2 separate regions of the Homo sapiens genome follow, and region 1 is linked to region 2. Evidence: fine-mapped QTL for protein levels in blood plasma. Region 2 holds a variant in brackets. A gene starts in the other region. All regions are shown on their forward strands.

Region 1 (12,284 bases), not on the chromosome of region 2:
GATCTTGTCTATCTTGTCCACCAGTCCATTTCCACTACTGAAAGTAGTGCCTGGGACATAAGGGCTGAGTAAATCTTTGACAGCTTAAATAATCAAAAAATGAAATAATAAAAAATTAATATGACTTAAACTATTTAAGTTTTAAAGAGATAAGTGGGTTCTCCAAAGTTAAGTTTACAGGTTTTTGTTTTTGTTTTTTTTGTAGGCTATTGATTTTCAGCAACATCTATGTCAGCAGAAAACAGACTCAGCTAAATACATCTCCCAGCCATGTTGGTTTCTATACATTGACTTTTGTGAGATTATATCATGAACAAATCTAAGGGAGATTTGCTTCCTCCTGTTTCCTTCAGTTAACTGAGCTATGTGATTTAGTCTTAGTTTTTCTGGAAAAAGATGGTTTTCTCGTGGTATTGACTGTAAAAGTATTTCAGATCAGCAGAACATAAAAAAAAAAAAAGATTAGAGGCAGAATATATAGTTTGGGTTAATCATCCTCTCCAAAACCCTATATTTGTAAACTTCCATACAGTCCAAGAAAGTTAATCATATGGATGTTTCTAGATTCCATAGTTAAAAGTGCTTATGTGAGCCCACCACCATGGTGATTTTATTTTTCCACATACCTCTTATTACCATTAAATATATTGTATATCTTTGTTATTTCATTTAGCTTATATGTGTCTTACTCCAGGAAAAATTAAGCTCCTTCTTGGAAAATATTTATTTATCCATTATTGCAACCCAATTCCTAGGGCAGTAGTTGAAATAAGCTCAATTAAATTTAAATAAATGAATGAATAGGTCCATTATATACAAATACCTGTGTTATATGCCTGCCTACCCTTACTCAAACACAGTTACATTAATATGCATCTCAAAGTCATAATAATTTTTTAAATCCTGTGACCTCTTATAATTAATATTTGTCTGGCTGAAATTAAAAATAAGAAGTAAAGGAGAAGAACTATGACAGTCAACCAACTTATTTATCTCTTTATAAATCTGTTTTCCGCCAGGCACGGTGGCTTAGGCCTGTAATCTCATCACTTTGGAATCCTCCCAACTGAAGCAGGAGGATTGCTTTGGGCCAGGAGTTCGAGACCAGCCTGAGCAACATAGTGAGATCCCATCTCTACAAAAGATAGCAACATAGTGAGACCCCCATCTCTATAAAAAATTTTTAAAATTCATCAGCCATGGTGGCACACACCTGTAGTCGCAGCTACTCAGAAGGCTGAGGTGGGAGGATTGCTTGAGCCAGGGAGGTCAAGGCTGCAGTGAGTCGTGATCGTGCCACTCTACTCCAGCCTGGGTGACAGAGCAAGATCTTCTCTCAAAAGTAGTAATGAAATGAAATGAAATAAAATAAGATAAAATAAAATAAATCTGCTTTCTCTCGCATAATATTGAGGACATAGGAGTTGTTGTTTTCTGCCCAAAGGACCAAAAAGAGTGAATTTAAATTCCTACTGTGAAGTGAGGGCCTGGACTTTAGAAATCAGAACATCTTTCAATAATAATTATATTCATGAAAAGAAAAAAAATACATGATCCTTCCTAAGATTGCCTCTAGGGCAGAAAAAATAAAAGAAGTATAACAGGCTTTAAAAAGTTTTTAAAAATCTCTTCTAAGAAATCCTCTTTCTCTGATCAAATTTTCATATTTTGAAATTTTTCTTCTCTCTTCCCATCTCCCTCTTGCTCTCTCGCTTTCTCTCTCTCTCTTTTTCAAAATTCTCCTTCCAATCATTCTATATAAAAGACATGGAGAAACACAATCCTAGGGAGTTCATCTTCCAGGAAACCAAGCTCCCATGACGGAAAGTCCATGAAACTGAAAGTTTCACTTTTTCTTTTTCTTTGATACTATTTTTCCTTCTAGATGTTTTTCTTCTAACTGTGAGTCTAATGTTTCTCAGTTTTATTCCAAGTGCTCCTAATCATACTGAAGTCTCTCTCCAGGGATCACCCTCACCCTAACATGAGACAGATTTTCACAAAAATAAGATGCCTAGGAGGTCGCTTGAGTTTGGTTTGGCTTTATTGTGGTTTTATTTTTTGGAAGAGAACCCCTTTGCTGTCTCCTGAGGCATGTTTAGAAAGGGGTGTGGACAGGCCAAGGAATGATATAAACATCCCTAGGAATAATAAGATATATATAGAAAAAAAAAAAAAACCTTTCCTGTATCCTCTTAGTATTAACCATACTATAAAAGGCCTTAGTGCTAGGGTCAAATTTTGGATACCAATTACTGTGTAATTATATGAAACTTTGTGGGTGGAGAGTTGTCAGACTTAACCAGTTACCCTTCATCAGGCATCAGAGAGGGAAAATTTTGTTTTCCACCCAAGAAACTAAGCTGACATTACCATATACAGTCTATTAGTATACCTATGAAATGCAAAAGGTCTTAAAAGCTGGAGAAGACACCGAGAGTTTAAATAATGTGCATGTTACAAACTAGTTGCAGAGCTAGGATTAAATTATGTTTAACGCTATACTCTGCACACTTTTCCATGAGCCAGTCAGGAATCACAGAGACATGGGGGCAAAACTGGTGGCAATGTACATAATATTTCAGAAAGCACTTTTTCATCCCTTTGTATTTTGAAATGTAAACGTCTTTGTTTCCTTAATCCTCACATATGGCACATAGGAAACTTCCTCATGGGAATCTGAGTTCACGGGTTGAGTCTGCTTTTCTGTGTTCATGTAAATGCAGGTTTCTTTTCTCTTATGAATCTATTTCAAATATTGCTATTTTCATACTCTCTAAATGAAAATCTGTGTTATCCTTCCTATTATTTGAAAAGAGTATACATCTAAAAACATATGAGCTATTTCTAGAATATCATTGAGGTTCTAATTCACAGTATTTAGAAATTTAATTATATTTTTCATCTTCAGTAAAAGTTAGGTGACTCAATTTTATATCCCCATCAACAGATATTATTTACTGAAATATAATTCAAAAACAACATTACCATTAATGATAATTGCTCAAATTTCTTGAGTTACTGAGAAAAATGTCTTATATGAATGTTCTCATCTAGCCTCACAAACACCCCCTATAAGGTAGATATTATTATCTCATTTTACAGGTAGGGAACTGAGGCCTAGCAGGTTTAGACAGCTTATTCAGGAACACACAGCTACTATTAGCAATAGTTACTAATGAACTATTAGTAACTCCCCAGGATTGTGTTTCTCCATGTCTTTATATAGAATGATTGGATGGAGAGTATTGAAAAAGAGAGAGAGAGAAATAGTTATTAATAGTAACCATAAGTGTGTTCTAGATACACATTATTTCACTGGAAGCAACCTTTACAAAAATTGAATTACCAAGGAGTCACTTAAGTTGCCTAAGTCACTAAGTTGCACAGAGCTACCCAAGCTGACTGATTCCAGAGCTGGACATTTTCAATCATCTTCCTATCCTCCCAACACATCTCAGATCAATATTTATACATGGCAGTGCATCTGGAATCATAGAATGACAGCAGCTTGCAACTTTTCCCTTCTACATTATGAAATGTCCACTCTGCCAGCAAGATGAATTCTGAAAGCATAAATTTAATCATACTTCCTCTCTTCCATAGGAAGAAGTTTCCCAAGGCTCTTTCTGTTTTAGTCAGTTTCTTAGTGTACTGTATCAGGCTCCTCCTAATAGGATCCCATTTTACTTCTTAGCCTCATGGGTCCAGATCATGTCACTTCCTCTGGGAACTCGCAAAACTAAACTCAATCAGTAACTCATTCATTCCTATATTGCTTCTGCGGCCTCCAACATTGATTTAATAGCACTAAATGACATTTACTACAACTATTGATTTAGAGTATTCCTTCCACTTCTCTAAGCACCTGAAAAAGAGGCTCCTCTAGTACATCCCATAATGTCTTGTCATTAGTAGGTTTGATTTAAAGAGTTGTTGAATCAGTTAACAGCGATTTATGTCATGACTGTGATGAGGGATTTATGCTGTAATTGAGGAAATAAAACTAAAACGCTGGGAAATTCAATAGTACTGTAATTAATGTGAACAAGGGAAAAGAGGAACTTGAATTTATTATTAAATTTTTTAAAATTATTTAACCAAAGTAATTTTTCATATTCTTTTGATAGGATAAAATTTAGTCTCTGGCAGGAATCTCAGCCTGTCAGTTATTTCATCCTCTCTCCTCTTACTGTACTGTTAATGTGAAGTTCTCTCCCTGAACTTATTTTCAATCTACAATTGAGTTAGAATTTCCCACATCTTAAAAAATCATTCTTAAAATCTGTCACCCAATGCTGTAATACCTCAGCAATAACCCATTTTATCTTCAAAAAAAAAGAGAGAAAGAAAAAGAGAAAATGACTTAAATTGTTTATTTTATTATGTAACCATCAGTTCCTTTTCAAACCACTGCTGTCAAAACTAAATATTTTCCTCCTTATTGATAAATTGTTAAATAATCATTTTAGTCTTCCTTTCGCTTAAACTCTCTGCAGTATTTGTTATTTGTTGTTTTTAAAACTCACAGTCATTATCATTGACTTTTCTAAAACTCTTGAATTTATTGTCCTTCCATTACTCTAATTTTCCATTACTCTTGAATTTATTGTCTCTTGATGCCCTTGTTGTCTCTCTCCAAGACTCCTGCTTCTACCACTCTCTGCTATTCATCCCTGGTAGCTCCTTTTGGAATCTTTCATTCTTCTTGCTCCTCAGGTGTTGATATTCCCTCAGATTATCTCCTTGACACTCTCTTCTGTTCATTCATGTTTTCATTTTACATTCCTTCCCTCAGTGATCTCACTCACTCTCATACATTTTAGTTACTAGCCATTTATTTGACTTAATGACTTAGGTACCTCATTTACTTTATTTATTTAATTACTATGCCAGTAATTCCCACATGTCTATGTAGCCCAACCCACATCCTGCATATACGGGTGTCTTTGGACAGCTCCAAATGCATGTCCCTCCTTCTGCAGACCCCTTAAACTCAAACTCAATTCATCATCTTTCCTGTCCCTTCTATAGTTTCTGTCTCAGTTAACATCAGCACCATCTACATTACATCAAACAGAACCTAGTCAACCTACCACCGAAGTCCCTTTCCTTGTCTCCTCACATGTAACCAATCACCGATTATCTAAACTCCAACACCTCGACATCTTTCATATCTGATTCTTTTTCCTTATTTTTACTATACTGCCTCAGTTCAGGTTTTTCTACCCTTGTACTGGACTAGTGGAAAAATTTGGTATCAGCACATGCAGTTTCATATACCTTCAACTTATCATTTCCATTGCAGCCAGGAAGGTCTTTCCAAAATGCAAAATTTTGTTTCTCCCTATCTAAATCCTGCATTGACTTCATTTTAACTATTGAATAGAATTAAACTAGATCAGCATGCCCTAAAATCCCTCCTTAACTTGCCAGACTTACCCCTTTGCTAAGTTTCCCTCCTCCAACTCTACACCTACGCCATACATATTGCTTATAGTTCTCTAAAAATACAAAGCTACTGAAAACCTTCATGACTTTCCCTTCATACGTCTCTCTGTCTATAGTGTCCCCAGCCTCTCAAACACCCTCACTCCCGATTCCTTATTATGTGGAAGATGTTAAAATTAACTCAACTCCACAGTTGCTCCTTCTGTTAAGCCTTTCCTGAACTCCTCTACTTAATTAGGTAAAAATTAAGCCGAGAGCTTGGTTAAGCTCTCGGCTGTACTGTACATGCTTCTGCCATAACACCTTATTATACTTACTCCTTAGTTGAGAATTGTATTAGACTTTCAATTTCCTTATGAACAGGGACCATATCACATTGGACATTATATCCTCAGTACTAGGATAACATGACCCCAAACATAAGTTTGTGAAAAATGTATGAGGTTGTTGTTTTTCATTTTCACTATCTTAATTGTTTGGCATTTTTACTATCTTAATTGTTTGGCATTTTTAAACACAAACATAGTTGTTACGTCAATTGTTATTGACAAAAGTCTAGAAATTAAATGAATGTGTGTGTGATTTATTTTTATTAATTCTAAAAAATAAAAGTTGCCAGCTCTTAATGGTATCACATCATTATGTTGAATCTGAATCCTCCACATTGCCGAAAATTTCTGAGTGATTTCTGCTGTTATTTTTATCAGCGAAGGTATATCAGATATGTTTATCTAAGAAATAATTATACTTCTATGATGGTATTCCCCTAAATGTTTGTATTACCATAAAAAGATGAAAACAAGATCTCATATATGTTGCCTAAGATAACTATTTCCAGATGATTTCTTCCAAGACAATTCTTTGTAATCTCCACTTCTACTGTTTCAATATCCATTTCTTACAAAGAAGCTCCCAGATGTTGCAGCTAGTGTTTTATCTTGCTCCACCTCCCTCTCCACCCTTCAACCTCAGCAGAACTTATTTGTACATGCTGTTCTTAATTATGCTGATCTCTAGTCCTTGACAGAGTTCCTGGCTCCAGTCAAAGGTGGAAAATGAAGTTATATACAAGCTACTCAAAACCACAGCCGTAAAAATGGACTCTTCGTAAGTTTTTTTGGAGGAAAACGCTTTGTATCCTATTACACATATCCTGTGGCTACAAAAGCTGACATCCCTACTTTTGTCACTTAGCTTCATTTCAAAGAGGTTGGAAATCCCCAATGTCCCTTAACAGCTTACTGGGTAGTTTAGTTAAAAAAAAAAAAAGCCATATTAGTAGGTTTCAGGTGGAGGGTCATTTAATAAATAGAAATAAATAGAAAGTGAATGGAGGGTTTAGTAGGAGAAAGGAAGGAAAACTAAAAGTTATTTGATAAAGAAATAAGGAACAGGATAGTTTTTTTTTTTTAAAGGTATATCCAGATTTACAAAGGTGAAGAAAACAATGATATAATCAGAAGGGAAAGGGCATATTAAAACACAGGCACTGAATGAATGTTAAAATGTGGGATTCCTTTCAACATTCCATTTCTTAAGAACCTAAAGTGTTCCTTTCAGCAATTTTGTGTCAGTCTATATCAGATCAGACAGACATTCAAATATTTTACATAATTTATCATTCTCAGTACTCACAACCACCTTGTAAAGGAAGTTTTATTACTTCTATTTAATATTAAGTCAAGTTAATATGAATTAATATACTTAAAGTATTTAAAACACTGCCAGCACATAATGAGCCCTTTATACATGTTTGTGGCCGTTAATATTTTATAAATAAAGAATATGATGCTACCAGGATACTTAAACAACTCATCCAAAGTTACACAGAAGGAAAGTGGCATACCTGGTTTAGGACCTAGAACCTAGTCCTGTGTATATTACCATGTGAGTCCTTTTCACTAGAACTGAAGTCATATTTTAGCTTTAGATTGGCTGAGTGGCCCAGGAAATAAAATCCTTCTCTAAGTGTGGGAATTATGGAACTGAATATAACTGAAAAAAAAAAATCACTACTATGTCACAGGGCGAGTAATTGGAAATAAAATTATAAGATGCAAGCTAAATATCTCCATTTCTAGGAGGGATAGATCATCTCACACATTTCACAAGGACTGTGGTCTATTTGGACTCCAGGAGACAGGGTACCTGTGCGCCGGGGCTCTGGATGCCGAGTTGTGGCAGAGCCTTGAGAATGCAGGCTCATGGTGGTGTCCCCATCATCATCCAGCATGTCCCTCGTGCTGCTGTACTTGGCCTGCATCTGGATTCCTACAGCGGTGAGAGTGAAATGTGGTCGGATTGCCCTGGGCCGCCGGGCTACTGTGAGCTAGTTCAGGAAGCAAGGCACTAAAAGGCATTCCTAATGTTCTTTCCCAGCGAGGGGCAGGGAAAGTCTCTGACTGCAATTCCTGACTGGACAGGCCCAGCCCCTCTCCTGTGAGCTTGTACTCTGAATGCCAAATCAGTCAGGCTGAGGGGAAATAGCATGTGTTTTCTGTTTAGGCCGTCTCAGTCTAAACAGTTGTCAAAAAGTTGGCCTTTCTCAGGTCTTTTTTGTTTACCTGTTTGCATTTCTCATGTAACTTCACTGTAAAGAAGGCAAGAACTTACAATAGCACGGTGTAGCACTGTGGTTCCTTCAGAGTCTGCAGAATAATAATAACTTGGAAGGACACACATCCCTGTTTCTTACCCATCCTTTAGGGAGTCACTTAGTTTAACCTCTCTGTGTCTTTGTGAAAAGAGAAGAGATTATAGGACCTAGCCCCTTCCTTTCTCCAAGAACAGAGTAGTGGTCTTTCTTATAGTATCTGAACTTGATTCAACATTTTATAGCACATTTGGTACATTATGATCACGAGGAATTATACAATTTACTGGAAGTAAAAACTTTTAAAACTATTACTAACCACCATGTGGTTTGGGGAAGCCAGTTCATTTGTGCCTAAATCTCCTAAACTGAGAAGAAAATGTTTTAGGTAATGTGAAAAAATTCTTCCTGAATCAGTACATTAGAATTATATTCCCATCTTAGTCTGTTTGTGCTGACCTACAACAGGATACCTGAGACCAGATAAATTATAAGCAATAGAAATGTATTTCTCAGCATTCCAGAAGGTGGGAAATCTAAGATCAAGGCACTGGCAGGTTTGGATGTCAGGTGAGAGCTGCACTCTCTGTAGAGGAGGAAGGGTATTCTCACGTGGCAGAAAGCAGAAGGTCAAGCCAGCCAAATGCTACATGTAGCGTCTTTTATAAAGGCCTTAATACCATCCTCAAGAGAGAAGACTTCAAGGACTAATCATCTCTTAAAGGCCCCACCTCTCTCAATACTACCACACTGGCAACACCTGAATTCTGCAGGAAACACATTCAAACCATAACAAGACAGGTATCAGTAACAACCTTGTGCCTTTGGGAGGACAATTAACAATTTGCATCTACATTTCCTAAACTGAAAGACAAGAAGATTGTTTTAGATAATGTCTAAAAGTTCTTCCTGAATCTGTACAATAGACTTATATTACTCTACCAAAACTTTTCCAGATGTTAGGTGATAGGTGGGCAAAATCAAGCATGCTAAATATAAAGGAGTGTCAGAATGCTCCAGTTGGGGTAGCCAGACCATATAAAAGATCTATGAGGAAGTGCACATTGTGGATTCACATGTGTTTCAAGCTGTTTGTTGTTCATCAAATTATTCTAAATTTTTTAAAAATTGGAATTTTTTTTTTTTTAGATGGCAGATTGGAGGCAGTGTTAGCATGACTCTACCACTTGGAAGGACAAAATAGTGAGTAAAAAATTCTCACTGTGGGCCAGCCATGGTGGTCACGCCTTTAATCCCAGCACTTTGGGAGGCTGAGGTGGGTGGATCACCTGAGGTCAGGAGTTCGAGACCAGCCTGACCAACATGGCAAAACCCCGTTTCTACTGAAAATATGAAAATTAGCCGGGCGTGGTGGCGGGTGCCTATAATACCAGCTACTGGGGAGGCTGAGGTAGGAGAATCACTTGAATCCGGGAGGCGGAGGTTGCAGTGAGCCAAGATCACACCACTGCACTCCAGCCTGGGCAACAGAGCGAGACTCCATCTGAAAAAAAAAAAAAAAAAAAAAAACCTTCTCACTGTGAACTCTTTTCCCAAGAAGCAACACAGGAACTGAACAGGAAAACTGAAAGAATCCACAGACTCTTTGAAAGAAGCAGCAGGTTATACCTACACCATGAGCTAGGTGAAAAACTGTAAGCTCCCAGGGTGTGTGAGGTGAAGAGACTGGCTCCAGGATACATACCCCCACAGGGGAACCTGAAAGTCCATGCCATGGGGGAAGGCCTTAACCCGTCCCAGCACTGGAACCAATTAAAAGAGCAGTGATGAATATAAAAGTAAGAGCAGCAGCAGGAAGAGGCTTGTGTGCATTCCCAGTCTCCAGCATGAGCCAAGGGAAACTATTCCTTATGCCTCACAGACAACCTCACGGAACTCAGCCAACTAGCTCAGCCAGGGGTTGCACATTGTAAAAACTCCCAACTGAAATTCACAATATAACCTCAAGTGAAATGAACTCCCTTGGCCAGAACCAGAAAGGTGAGTGGGAAATGTGTTGCAGCCGTGAGTGCAGGATCTGGGTGCCAGCTGTGTGGGTGGACAGAGAGGGGCATGGCCTGAACGCCAGCAGTTGCTATCACCACGGGAAAAGTTTATGGCCTCAGGCAGTTGTGAGCTCTGAGTGCAGACTGCCTGGAACTTAGCTCACTGCTGCTAGCAGAGTACTGCAGGAGCCAGATCTGCCTTGCCAACTGTGTGACATCTGGGTTAGGCTTACTGCTGCCTACTACTCCCCACTCCCTGTGCAACCACATCTCCAAAAGGGGCCGCTGCTTGCCATGCACATGGTGACTCAGAGTGCAGACCCACCTAACACAGCCCTCATCTGGCTTTGCCCCTCCACCCACCGTGGTAGCTTAATACAAAGGACAGAAACCCTGGGGAGATTTATAGCCCCATCCATCACCTGAGAAGCCAGACTACCTACCCTGGGCAACATAAGGCAAGCACAAATCCCACTGCTACTACCACACCTGATACTCTTTTGCAAATGCCACCCAGTAGCTGGAAGCCTACCAACACAGTCCATTGCAGCATCTGTAGGTGGAATAACACTGCACTCAAGAAGGACAAAACTACTGTGTGACCTCAGCTATTACCACTTCCTGCACTACCCTGTCTAACCAGGAGGTCCTGAGTCTATCCACATGACCAGTTTATTACTACCTGAACTAGCATTCAAGAAAGACAACACACTAAAGTTATCTATAATCAAGGAATCTCACAGGTCTATGTCACGCCTCTGGCACCCCCATCAGACCTGGTGCTGATAACAGCTGCTGGAAAACTGGAGGACAGGTCATATCACTGGATCCTTAGCAGACATCCCCCAGCACTAGTCTGGAGCCACTGAGTGGCTAGACCCTGAGGAGCAGCAGCACTCATAGTAGTCTGTCTCTCAGGAACTTCTACTCCTAAGGAAAGGGAGAGTGTGCCACATCAAGGGAACACCCTGTGTGAATAAAGAATCCAGATGGCAGGTCTTAAGGATTAGATTGTTCCACTGGTGGGAAGTTTCTTTCAATAGAGGCAGAATTGAAGTGCTGGGCTCAGCAGGGAATGTCTACAGCTGTCCCAACAGTCAGACAGCCCTGGTGCTTATCAAGGATCTTGGAGAAGGGGACTTCTTACCAACCTCGTCCACCACTGCAGACACAGCTGGGTCTTCTCCCACAAGAGCTCAGCATGGGTGCACCCATAGACAGACTTTGTAGAACACTTCAGGGTGACCGCAACCCCACAGGGGAAGCAACCCTCCAGTTTCAGGCTTACATAAGAGGCAGAGTCACAGTTCTCTACTTGGAGCACTAACATTCCAGCAGATGAAAAGAGAGGCCTGTCTGATCTGAATAGCCAGAATATTGGGACAGATGTGAGTCTGGGAGATGGATAGCTTCCCAGCTGACCTGACAGGGGAGCTAAGGTGGCTACCACCCTTCCCCTGATAAGACTTCAGTGTGTCTCCCTGACAGCTCCCCCAGCCCCTTTTGTCAAGGCTGAGACCTCTGCCCACCATTGGGTATTGCATTTACCCACCTTCTTTAGCCACAACTGGTTCCTACCTAGGAACACCTCCACTACTGGCCTGAAGCCTGAACCATCAACCCAGTGAATAAAATACTGGAGCAAAGTAAATAAATTTAAAAGTGCATACCACATTGGAATGAGATAAGCTTCCAGAGACAGTAAGTTTGCTCACACATTCAGCACATTACTACTATGTCTAGCATCTGAGAAAGCCATCATACAAAGTTTCTCTATAACCAAGGAAATCATACAGAATTTTCACCCCTAAAAGCACCAAGAACCAAATTAGGCTATAACAAACTATAAACATTAAAGTCAAATTCTTAAGAAGGAAAATAAGAAATAAAATCACACAGTCAAATCAAAAATAAATTTAAGAATAATTAGAAGAAATAGTCTACCCAGATGAGGAAGAACCGGAAAAGTAATTCTGTTAATATGATAAAATGGGGTTCTATAACACCTCCCAAAAGATCACATTAGCTCTCAAGCAATGAAGCCAAACTAAGATAAAATCTTAGAAATACCAAATGAAAAATTCAGAATGTTGTATAAGAGCTACTCAAGGAGATACCAGAGAAAGGTGAAAACCAACATAAAGAATTTTTTTAAAAAATTCAGATTATAAATGAAAAATTTTCTAGAGAGCTAAATATCATAAAAAAGGAACGTCTGGAAATGAAAGGCACAT
Region 2 (11,801 bases):
CACTGCACTCCAACCTGGGTGACAGAGCCAGACTCTGTCTCAAGAAAATAAAGAGAAAAAGAACTAGATTCAGGCTGTATGTGGGCACCATCTACAGACATCAGACACACACATTTAGGAGTAATAATGATGCAATATTGCCAAATGTTTCTCAGCAACCATGTGCAACTGTTGCATGTACTGTTTATTTCTAACTCAGGAGGATCTCTCTAACCACACATTGCAAGAAAATAGACTTTCAGTGTTTCTGGCAAAACAAAGAGTTTTTTTGTTGGCATTTATGCTGAAAGGGAAGAGTTAAAATGTTAATTTGTCTTTTTTCTTACCTCCAAGTTCACTCAAATCCTCTCTTGAAGCAGTGTCTGTCTCCTATGTCTGCGGTGGCATCATCCACGAAGTATCAGGACATTTGACCTGTTGTTTTCAGAGTCGAGTGCCACATGTAGAGATTGTTTCCTGGGGCCTAAACAGTGTTGGTTGTGAAAGAGAATAATCAGTGATGTGGGTCCCACTGTGCCAGTACCAGGCACCAGATCCCAAAGGACAGAGGTGCTTATCTGTTATTTAATAAACTGTTGTGTGTGGGTGGGTGTGTGGGTGGGTGTGATATGTGGGGCTCTCTAAATCCCTGGGCCCCAATAGTCCAGGTCTAATGGTGGTGCTGTCCCCAACAATGCTCAGCTTCTCCTCAAAATACATGGTATCTGGGCTGGGCACGGTGGCTTACACCTGAAATCCCAGCACTTTGGAAGGCCGAGGCGGGTGGATCACTTGAGGTCAGGAGTTCAAGATCAGCCTGGCCAACATGGCGAAACCCTGTCCGTACCAAAAATACAAAAGAAATTAGCCAGGTGTGGTAGTGACACCTGTAATCCCAGCTACTAGGGAGGCTGGATAGGAGAATTGCTGGAACTCGGGAGGCGGAGGCTGCAGTGAACTGAGATCGTGCCACTGCACTCCAGCCTGGGCGACAGAGTGAAACCTTGTCTCAGATAGATAGATAGATAGATGATAGATAGATAGATAGATAGATAGATAGATAGATAGATGATAGATAGATGATAGATAGATTAGATAGATAGATAGATAGATAGATAGATAGAGATAGATGATAGATGATAGGTAGGTAGATAGATGATAGATAGATAGATAGATAGATAGATAGGTAGATAGATGATAGATAGATAGATGTTAGATAGATGAATGGTATCTGGAGTCTGTCCCCATCATCTCACCCCTGGACCACTGCATCAGCTCCAGCTGGTTTCTCAGGTTTAATCTCCTTCCCTAGCCCTCCCCATTCTTCCCATTCAGACAGAGCGATCTTTCTGAAGAACCAATCTGGTTATGCCTTTCCAACCCCTTTGAAATCTTTCCATTTCTCTCCTACACCTCCTAAGTCTAGCGAACCCCTCAGCCTGGCTTCCATGCCCTGCAGGCTCCATCTCCTGCCAACCTCTTCAACATAAAGTCTGGCCACTCCCACTTATCATGTGCTCCAGCTGCACAGACTTTCCAGCTCCCTGATACACCCACTCTCTCACCTGCGCTCTTCCCTCTTGATAACTCCAATCATTGTTTCAAGCCTCAAATTAGAGCAATGCAAATTCAAGAAACAAACCAAGCTGGCAAAAACACAAAAAAGAAAGGAAAAAAAAAGGGTCATTTCTGTTCTGACAAGGATGGGGATAAGGAGACTCACTTGTACACTGCCAAACTGACATTCAAAATCCTTAGTGCTTTTGGATTTGTCATGTTTGGGAGGAGGGTTTTTAAATCATCGGCTTTCTTGAGGTTGAATAAATAAAAGAAAATGCACACATTTTAGGTTTACTGTTCAATTAGTTTTTACAACTATACGTGTGTGTGTATAATGGCCACCACGATGACAACCTGGATCGTTGTCATCCACTTCAGTGTTCTCTCATATGCTTTTGCAGTCAAATTGCCCTCTTTTGCCCTTGGCAACCACTGATCTGATTTCTAAAATTATAGATTTGTTTGAGCTGTTCTAGAACAGAACCGTACAGTATATAAGCTCCTTTGTATCTGGCTTCTTTTGTTCAGCATAGTGTTTTTGAGATTCATCCATGGTGTTATATGTATCAATAGTTTAACTATTTTTATTGTTAAGTAATATTCCTTTGTAAGAAAATGCCACATTTTTATTTACCATTTTCCTGTTGATGGGCATTTGGATTGTTTCTTTCTTTTTTTTTGGTTTTTGTTTTTGCTTTTGTTTTTGTTTTTTAGACAGTCTTGCTCTGTCACCAGGCTGGAGTGCAGTGGCACGATCTCGGCTAACTGCAAGCTCCACCTCCCAGGTTTGAGCGATTCTCCTGCCTCAGCCTCCTGAGTAGCTGGTACTACAGGCGCATGCCACCACACTCAGCTAATTTTTGTATTTTTAGTAGAGACGGAGTTTCTCCATGTTGGCCAGGCTTGTCTCGATCTCTTGACCTTGTGATCCGCCCACCTCGGCCTCCCAAAGTGCTGGGATTACAGGCGTGAGCCGTGGTGCCCCACCCTTGGATTATTTCTAATTTTGGCTATTTTGAGCAATGCTGTTATGAACATTAATATGTAAGACTTTGTGCATAGCACGTGGTTTCCTTTCCCTTGGATACTAAGGTAATTTTAAAAGGGAAATTGGCTGCTCTCTGACACTTATCATCAGAGGAAAAATCACAATATGAAATGCTGTTAGATAGGCTGGGAGTGGTGGCTCACGCCTATAATCCAGCACTTTGGGAGGCTGAGGCAGGAGGATCACTTGAGGCCAGAAGTTCAAGACCAGTCTGGGCAACATAGTGAGACTCTGTCTCTACAATTTTTTGTTTTTTAAATTTAATTAGCCAAGTGTGGTGGTGCATGCCTGTAGTCCTAGCTACTCCAGAGGCTGAGGTGGGAGGATTGCTTGAGCCCAGGAGTTTGAGGCTGCAGTTGAGCTATGATTCATACCACTGCACTCCAACTTGAAGAGCCTGAAAAAAAAAAAAAAGTGCTGTAGACATAAAGGACATGACTAAGTAGGTTAGAATATAGTAAGCGGGCCAGGCGCCGTGGCTCATGCCTGTAATCCCAGTACTCTGGGAGGCCGAGGTGGGCAGATTGCTTAAGCTCAGGAGTTCGAGACCAACCTGGGCAACATGATGAGACCCCCATCTCTACAAAAGTACAAAAAGTTAGCCAGGTGTGGTGGCACGCACCTGTGGTCCTAGCTACTCGGGAGGCTGAGCTGGGAGGATCTCTTGAGCCTGGGTGGCAGAGGTTGCAGTGAGCCAAGATCCCACCACTACACTCCAGCCTGGGCGACAGAGTGAGATGCCATTTCAGAACAAAAACAAAAACAAAAAAAGAATAGAGTAAGTGAATGAAAAGTTGTGCATCCATTACACTTTTATTTATTTATTTATTTATTTATTTTTGAGACAGGGTCTCTTGCTCCATCATACAGGCTGGAGTGTAGTGGCAAAATCACAGCTTACTGCAGCTTTGAACTCCTGGGCTCAAGCAATCTTCCAGCCTCAGAGTCCAGAGTAGCTAGGCTTTCAGGTACATGGCACCAGACCTGGCTAATTTTTTTGTTTGTTTGTTTGTTTTCCTTGAGACGGAGTCTCACTCTGTCACCCAGGCTGGAGTGCAGTGGCGCCATCTCAGCTCACTGCAAGCTCTGCCTCCCAGGTTCACGCCATTCTCCCATCTCAGCCTCCCAAGTAGCTGGGACTACAGGCGCCTGCCACCACGCCCAGCTAATTTTGTTTTTGTATTTTTAGTAGAGATGGGGTTTCACCATGTTAGCCAGGATGGTCTCCATCTCTTGACCTCATGATCCGCCCGCCTCAGCCTCCCAAAGTGCTGGGATTACAGGCGTGAGCCACCGCGCCTGGCCGACCTGGCTAATTTTTAAATATTTTTGTGTAAAGATAGGGTCTCACTATGTTGCCCAGGCTAGTCTTGAACTCCAGGACTCAGGTGACTCTCCCATCTTGGGTCCATTAAGCTTTTAACTACAAACTACACTGAAATATGAAAGTTATTCAGAATGAAATGAATAAGAATGCAAAATTATAATCATACCGTAAGAATACTTTCTGAGTAATCCCAGCACTTTGGGAGGCCGAGACGGGTGAGTCACCTGAGGTCGGGAGTTCCAGACCAGCCTGGCCAACATGGAGAAACCCCATCTCTACTGAAAATAACAACAACAAAAAAAATTAGCTGGGCGTTGTGGAGGGCACCAGTAATCCCAGCGACTCAGGAGGCTGAGGCAGGAGAATCGCTTGAACCCAGGAGGCACAGGTTGCAGTGAGCCGAGATTGAGCCATTGCACTCCAGCCTGGGGGACGGGAGTGAAACTCCGTATCAAAAAAAAAAAAAAATGAATACTTTCTGAAAGTATTTATTCATACAAATAAAGACTTGACCCGTGAGGTAGGAACACAAATGGGCCACGGAATCACTCATTCCACAGAATATACCGAGTGCCCTTGAAGTGCTGGGCACTGCTCCAGGATTGGGGGCGTATTGGTGAAAGAGAAGCAAGCTGCCTGCTCAGATGGCAGGGAATGGGGGAAAACAGGGAGACAGTTTCCTGTTTGAGATGTTGGGAGATGCTTCGAGTAGTATATTTACTGGAAATAGACATTCAACTTGGATGTCCCTTTTTGGAAATGTGCCTGCGTCCAGGGCTGGGTTGGGGCCCCAATGAACTTTGGCTCTGACACAGCTGTTGCCACACTCAGTGGAACTGAATCTATGTTTGTCTTCCCCGGCATCCTTCACCCCAACTCTCCCCGCCACAACATACATCCCATGCCAGCCTGGGGACCCTCAAAGGTGGCTTCATCATTAGGTTTGTGGCTGGGTCCCACTGAAGTAAGTCTTGGCACTCAGAGGGATAGGAATTGAATGAAGACATGAGATTCCTCTGCGGGAGGCCTCTCTAGGAAATCTGTGGACTCACACGTTTACTAATGTTGCTGCAGCCCCGCACCCACCTTGGCCTTGGGCAGCCATACTCTAGGGCTTTTGTAACCTCTCCATGTGAGGAACTCAAATTAGACCTGGGTTTGGAGGCGGTGCTCCGAGCTGGCCTTTGGGGGAGGTTTTGTGCGAGGCATTTCCCAAGTGCTGGCAGGATTGTGTCACAGACACAGAGTAAACTTTTGCTGGGCTCCAAGTGACCGCCCATAGTTTATTATAAAGGTGACTGCACCCTGCAGCCACCAGCACTGCCTGGCTCCACGTGCCTCCTGGTCTCAGTATGGCGCTGTCCTGGGTTCTTACAGTCCTGAGCCTCCTACCTCTGCTGGAAGCCCAGATCCCATTGTGTGCCAACCTAGTACCGGTGCCCATCACCAACGCCACCCTGGACCGGGTGAGTGCCTGGGCTAGCCCTGTCCTGAGCACATGGGCAGCTGCCTCCCTTCTCTGGGCTTCCCTTTCCCTGCTGGCTGTGGTCGGACCCCCACTCCCGGCTCTGCCTTTTTCTCTTCTGGGTCCCCAGGGTGAAATTCTCACCAGCCCAGGGGACTCTGGAGGCACCCCCTGCCTCCAAACACAGAAGCCTCACTGCAGAGTCCTTCACGGAGGACGGTTCTGTGCTGGGCCTGGAGGGGCTGCCTGGGGGGCAATGACTGATCCTCAGGGTGAGCTCCTGCATGCGCACTGCCCACCAGGGGCCTCATCTCCCCATCTGCAAAATCAGGGAGAGATCTGCCTGAGTCTCCTCCCAGCTGACAGTCAAAGATTCAGCATCAAGCCCCCATCACCAGCTCCCACCTTCTCCCCAGATCACTGGCAAGTGGTTTTATATCGCATCGGCCTTTCGAAACGAGGAGTACAATAAGTCGGTTCAGGAGATCCAAGCAACCTTCTTTTACTTCACCCCCAACAAGACAGAGGACACGATCTTTCTCAGAGAGTACCAGACCCGGTGAGAGCCCCCATTCCAATGCACCCCCATCTCAGCTTCTGGCCAGAAGACCTGAGCAAGTCCCTCCTTCTTCCTGGCCTTGGCCTTCCCATGGGTGGAACCGGGAGGGCTGGCTTTAATCTCCACCAGACTCTTGCCCCAGGACTGTGATGGGCGATTGGCCACTTCTCAATAATCTTCCTGTTTTCCTTCCGCCTTCTGTTTGGCTTTAGACAGGACCAGTGCATCTATAACACCACCTACCTGAATGTCCAGCGGGAAAATGGGACCATCTCCAGATACGGTGAGGGCCAGCCCTCAGGCAGGAGGGTTCACTGTGGGAACAGGGCAGGCCAGCATAAGGTGGGGGCTGGATGTAGAGCCCTGGAGGCTTTGGGCACAGAGAAATAACCACTAACATTTTTGAGCTCTAACGATGTGCTCAGAAACAACTCTAAGAGGACACTGAGAGAATTAGAGGAGGAAAAAGAAGAACAGAGACCTCAAATAGTTTCCCCAAGGTCACACAGCTTATAATTAGAACTAGAATTGGAACTCCAGGCTGGCTTCAGATCTGCCTCTCTCTCATGCCCTCTTTAAGATCCTTTGCAAACCAATGGTAGAAGCCTGTATGTTGGAGAGGTGGTACCTTCAACTATGTCCCCCATCACCGCAGAGGTGGCACATGGCAGGGAGCTGATGGAGCTGAACTGACACCATTTAGCATCCCGAGCCTCCTCTCTGGGCCTCATTTTCCTCATCTGTAAAACGGAGAAAGGCCCTGACAGCCACGGTCTGTGTGAGGCTCCTGAGATCTCATGTACAGAAAGTGCTTGGCGTGGAGCTGGGCATGCAGCAGGGGCTGGGCACACGGTGGCCCAAAGGAGCCCTGGGCCTTCACTGATGGGCTGTGTGGCCACTGACACACCTAGGCCTCCTCACCTGTAAGACAGACACCATTGTGCCATCCCATGTTCTCACCCAGAGGCTCCTTTTCTCTTCCAGTGGGAGGCCAAGAGCATTTCGCTCACTTGCTGATCCTCAGGGACACCAAGACCTACATGCTTGCTTTTGACGTGAACGATGAGAAGAACTGGGGGCTGTCTGTCTATGGTAGGCATGCTTAGCAGCCCCAAACTCATGCCCCTCTCAGGCCTCACCCCCCATTCACCCACCCCTGGGCTGGCCCCTAGAACCCCAGCCCTCCCTGGCCTCCCGCCGGGCCCCACCATGTCCCCAGTCAGTCTCCTTGCTCCCCCTGCAGCTGACAAGCCAGAGACGACCAAGGAGCAACTGGGAGAGTTCTACGAAGCTCTCGACTGCTTGCGCATTCCCAAGTCAGATGTC[G/A]TGTACACCGATTGGAAAAAGGTAAACGCAAGGGATTGGACAGTGCCCACCTTGTCCATGGCCCAACTTGGGCAGCCCCAGAGGCCCAGAGCAGGAGAGCTGCCAGGCAAGGCTGCACAGCTAGGCAGATCTTCTGCTTTTAGGCACCTGCCTCACTGTAGGGACAGCTGAGCTCTACAGAGGCCCAGGGGTGGTGGATGAGAGCCCAGGAGGGAGAAGTCCCTGTGAAACCAGGGAGGACCTGAAAGCTAACAGGAGGGAACAGCGTGAGCCACGGGGTTGGGGGATTGGCAATTGGAGGGGACGTAATGCGGGGAGTTACCACCTACAGACGCGTCCCAAACCCCAGGCTTTCACCCCACCTCCACTCCCCACTCATTTTTAATACCCGTGCAGTGGGGAATTGATACTGTGGTTTTCAATGTCACCCACACTGCAGCACGGCCACAGTCACCATCCCGATTTTTGCTACAAATGAAAATTACTTTATAATGAGCTCCTTAACACTTTTCTTTAAACCTGTGTTTGGAAGACTTGCGTTGGTGTGGCCCTGTGCCCAATACCTGTGAAATCACAGCACCGATGAGCTGGTTCCAATTTTTAAAATATATACATGCAGTACTTCCATGACTATTCAAAGAAAAACAATTCCTTCCATTTGCCATCTGAGATGACCACCAGTGGTGTGAACTACCTCCTGCCCCCATCTGCAGTCCCAGGATCCTGGGACAGGGCTTATGAACACAACCACTGTAGTCAGCTCACCTGATCCACAGCCTGGCACCCCCACTGTCTGGCTAGGGAGCCTCGAATGGGTCCCAAGGCCACCCTGCTCCTCAGTTACATCATCTGCATAGTAGTGGTGGTTGTGAGGAATTCAGGAGCTGCAGCATAAGGGCTCGGCAGGTCCTAAGTGCACAGTAAATGCCAGTGATTCTTAAGAGTCTGAGCTCCCATTGTAGAGGCAAGTAAGCTGAGGTTCAGAGACAGAAAATGACTTGCCCAAGATCACCCAGCTGGGAAGTGACAGTGCCAGGGTTGGAGCCCTGGTTGAGCTGGTTCCACAGGCCAGAGCTCATTCTGCCCTCTCCCTGGAAGACCTCCCACCCTGTCCCCATGCCTCTGCTTCTCCCTCACCCCAATTCCCCGCTGCCTTCTAGGATAAGTGTGAGCCACTGGAGAAGCAGCACGAGAAGGAGAGGAAACAGGAGGAGGGGGAATCCTAGCAGGACACAGCCTTGGATCAGGACAGAGACTTGGGGGCCATCCTGCCCCTCCAACCCGACATGTGTACCTCAGCTTTTTCCCTCACTTGCATCAATAAAGCTTCTGTGTTTGGAACAGCTAAGCTGTTAGTCATTTGTTCATTCATTCATTCTGAAGCCTGCCCTGAGTTCAACCCTGGCTGGGCACTGGATAAGACGCTGTCCCTGGTGGGAAGAGCCCCACACGTGCCAGGATGGAGGATGACAGGCACCGAGTGCTGTGGGAGCCCAGCACTGTGGGAAGACATTTTCTTCTGCAGGGCGAAAATCTGGGAAGGCTTCCTAGAAGGGGCATCTGAACCAATCTAGAAAGATGAGGAGCATAATACAACCTGCTGTTCTGTGTACAATGTGTGATGATCAAATCGGGGTCATTTCCACCACCTCAAACATTTACCATTTCTTTGTGTTGGGAACATTATCACACAGTTCCCCATAAATATGTACATTATGTGTCCATTTAAAACAATACAAGCAAACAAATGTGAATTTCTAAACTGAGACTACTGTAAGGCCTTTCTCCTAATAGCAAGATTGTAATAAAACTTCAACTAGTCATAAAAAAAAATCCTTTTCTGTTTCTGCTGCAAGCAAGGAAATGAGAGGATGCATTTGAGTAACCTTGAGGCAGAAGACCCTAAACAGGAGTGGAGGTGTGATATTGTTTGGCTCTGTCCCCACCCGAATCTCACATGGAATTTTCAGCCCCATGTGTTGGAGGCGGGTCCTGCTGGGAGGTGATTGTATCACGGGGCTGGTTTCTAATGGTTTAGCCCCACCTCCCAGGTGCTGTTTCTCACAAGGTCTCATTGTTTAAAAGTGTGTAGCACCTCCCCCTTCGCTCTGTCTCTCCTGCTGTCTTGTGAAGAAGGGACTTGCTTCCTCTTTGCCTTCCACCATGATTGTAAGTTTCCTGAGGCCTCCCAGCCATGCTTCCTCTGAAGCCTGCGGAACTGTGAGTCAATTAAACCTCTTTTTTTCATAAACTACCCAGTCTCAGGTAGTTCTTTATAGCAATGTGAGAACAGACAAATACAAGGTGGATGGGGTGGGGAGAGTTCAGGCATGTGGTGCCTATCACAAGGACCTTATTCCAGTATTACCATGGCCATCGGGGGAGGCACGTTGTGGGGACCAGGCTGGAGGCAGGAAGGCCTGAGTGAAGGCTGCTGTGGGCAACTAGGCAAGAGGCGGTTGCCTGGGCCAGGACAGGGCAGGGCAGGGAAGGGCTGGGGTGATGCAGAGGGCTTGGGGCCCAGGCCAGAGGGGCTGGGTGTCTCCATGGACGTGTCCTCAGGGTGCTCACCTGGGAGACCCAGAAGAAGGAGACAACACGTAAGGGTGAGGCTGGTCCCTGGAAATCAGTTGACATCTTGCAAATGTGGAGCCCTGAGGTGGAGCCAAGCCCGAGGCACAGCCCACTCAGTGGCACAAGCCACGAAGGGCCGGCCTCACCCAGACCTGGGGGCTCATGATTGACAGCCTCTTGTTACGTGAGGGAAGCAGCACTCCTCCCGTGGCAGAAAAGTTGGGCCTGAGTTGTTCCATCTATTCCGTATGTGCAGCTGCGTACACCATACAGGGTGATAAGACCATGAGCCTGAGGCTCTGACACCCCAGGGTCCAGTCCTGTGTCCTCAGGCACCACTCCCCTTTGTACCTCCTGTCCCAACAGCCAAGCTCCACAGGGCCAAGACTACAGCATCCTTTGCTCAGCACCCAAACCACTGCTGTGCCCACAGCACGGAGGCTGGGGACACCGAGCTGATGTCCTCAGAAGGCAAGTGGACAGGACAGCCTCTGGGGTCCCACAGTGGCCTGGAACTGAAGGCTCAGAACCTAAAAGAAGTTTCCCCATTTCAATGTTACTTTCAGTAAGACACCATTTTCAACCATACTGAGGAGGATCCGCTGAAAAATGAAACAGAAATGAGTCGTGATGGGCAGGGCAGGGAGAAGCAAGGGAGACGAGAAGTGGGGAACATGGAAGGAAAAGCCACGTGAGGAAGAAACCAGAGGTCAAGAGAAAAAGAATCATGGAGGTAGAGGAAGCAAAAAACACACATAACAAAGAATGTGGACTTTGGAGTCAAACTAATGTGAGTCCAAACCCAGGCTCTCTCCCAAACCAGTTTGGGCAGATGGCCCAGTGGAACCTCACTCTCCTCATCAGTAAAAAGGGGGCAGAGTGAGGGTCCTGAGAGCTAGTACAGGGACTGTGTGAAGTAGACAATGCCCAGTGTTTAGCGTAAGAATCAGGGTCCAGCTGGTGCTCCCTAAACAGCAGCTGCTGTTCACTGTTGAAAGGCGCTCTGGAAGGCCAGGCGCGGTGGCTCATGCTTGTAATCCCAGCACTGTGGGAGGCCGAGGTGGGCGGATCACCTGAGGTAGGGAGTTCGAGACCAGCCTGACCAACGTGGAGAAACCCCATCTCTCCTAAAAATACAAAATTAGCCAGGCGTGGTAGCACATACCTGTAATCCCAGCGACTCGGGAGGCTGAGGCAAGAGAATTGCTTGAAACCAGCAGGGGAGGTTGTGGTGAGCCAAGATCGAGCCATTGCACTCCAGCCTGGGCAACAAGAGCAAAATGGCGAAACTCCATCTCCGAGAAAAAAAAAAAAAAGAATACTTTCTGAAAGTATTTATTCATACAAATAAAGACTTGACCCATAAGGTAGGAACGCAAATGGGCCACGGAATCACTCATTCCACAGTATACACCGAGTGCCCTTGAAGTGCTGGGCACTGCTCCAGGATTGGGGGCATATTGGTGAAAGAGAAGCAAGCTGCCTGCTCAGATGGCAGGGAATGGGGAAAAACAGGGAGACAGTTTCCTGTTTGAGATGTTGGGAGATGCTTCGAGTAGTATATTTACTGGAAATAGACATTCAACTTGGATGTCCCTTTTTGGAAATGTGCCTGCGTCCAGGGCTGGGTTGGGGCCCCAATGAACTTTGGCTCTGACATAGCTGTTGCCACACTCAGTGGAACTGAATCCATGTTTGCCTTCACCCGGCATCCTTCACCCCAACTCTCCCCGCCACAACATACATCCCATGCCAGCCTGGGGACCCTCAAAGGTGCTTCATCATTAGGTTTGTGGCTGGGTCCTACTGAAGTAAGTCTTGGCACTCAGAGGGATAGGAATTGAATGAAGACATGAGATTCCTCTGCGGGAGGCCTCTCTAGGAAATCTGTGGACTCACACGTTTACTAATGTTGCTGCAGCCCCGCACCCACCTTGGCCTTGGGCAGCCATACTCTAGGGCT

Which allele goes with the higher level. Alleles are on the strand shown, and positions count from the first base shown. The strength of an association depends on the size of the effect and on how common the allele is.
For the plasma level of the protein whose gene starts at base 7,777 in region 1, allele G in region 2 goes with a higher level than allele A (weak association).

What was found. PIP is the chance, under the fine-mapping model, that this variant and not a neighbour inherited with it causes the effect. The UK Biobank Pharma Proteomics Project read protein levels with antibody pairs (Olink). The fine-mapping took linkage between variants from a reference panel, not from the people measured, so its PIPs are less certain.
Region 1: CLEC1A starts here. The variant in region 2 is fine-mapped to the plasma level of the CLEC1A protein (UK Biobank, PIP above 0.99).

What each region holds. Positions count from the first base shown.
Region 1 is chr12:10,091,209-10,103,492 of GRCh38, forward strand. It overlaps CLEC1A (C-type lectin domain family 1 member A), which reads right to left and starts at 7,777. Exons shown (of 6, transcript NM_016511.4): 1 at 7,600-7,777. The coding sequence starts at 7,714.
Region 2 is chr9:114,317,868-114,329,668 of GRCh38, forward strand. ORM1 (orosomucoid 1) reads left to right here and starts at 5,231. Exons shown (of 6, transcript NM_000607.4): 1 at 5,231-5,380; 2 at 5,796-5,938; 3 at 6,151-6,221; 4 at 6,923-7,030; 5 at 7,182-7,285; 6 at 8,425-8,612. The coding sequence starts at 5,267. The coding sequence ends at 8,490. It overlaps LOC105376224 (a long non-coding RNA gene), which reads right to left and starts at 576. Exons shown (of 3, transcript XR_930255.3): 1 at 327-576. RefSeq lists an enhancer at 2-296. The variant G/A (reference allele first, on the strand shown) is at 7,265.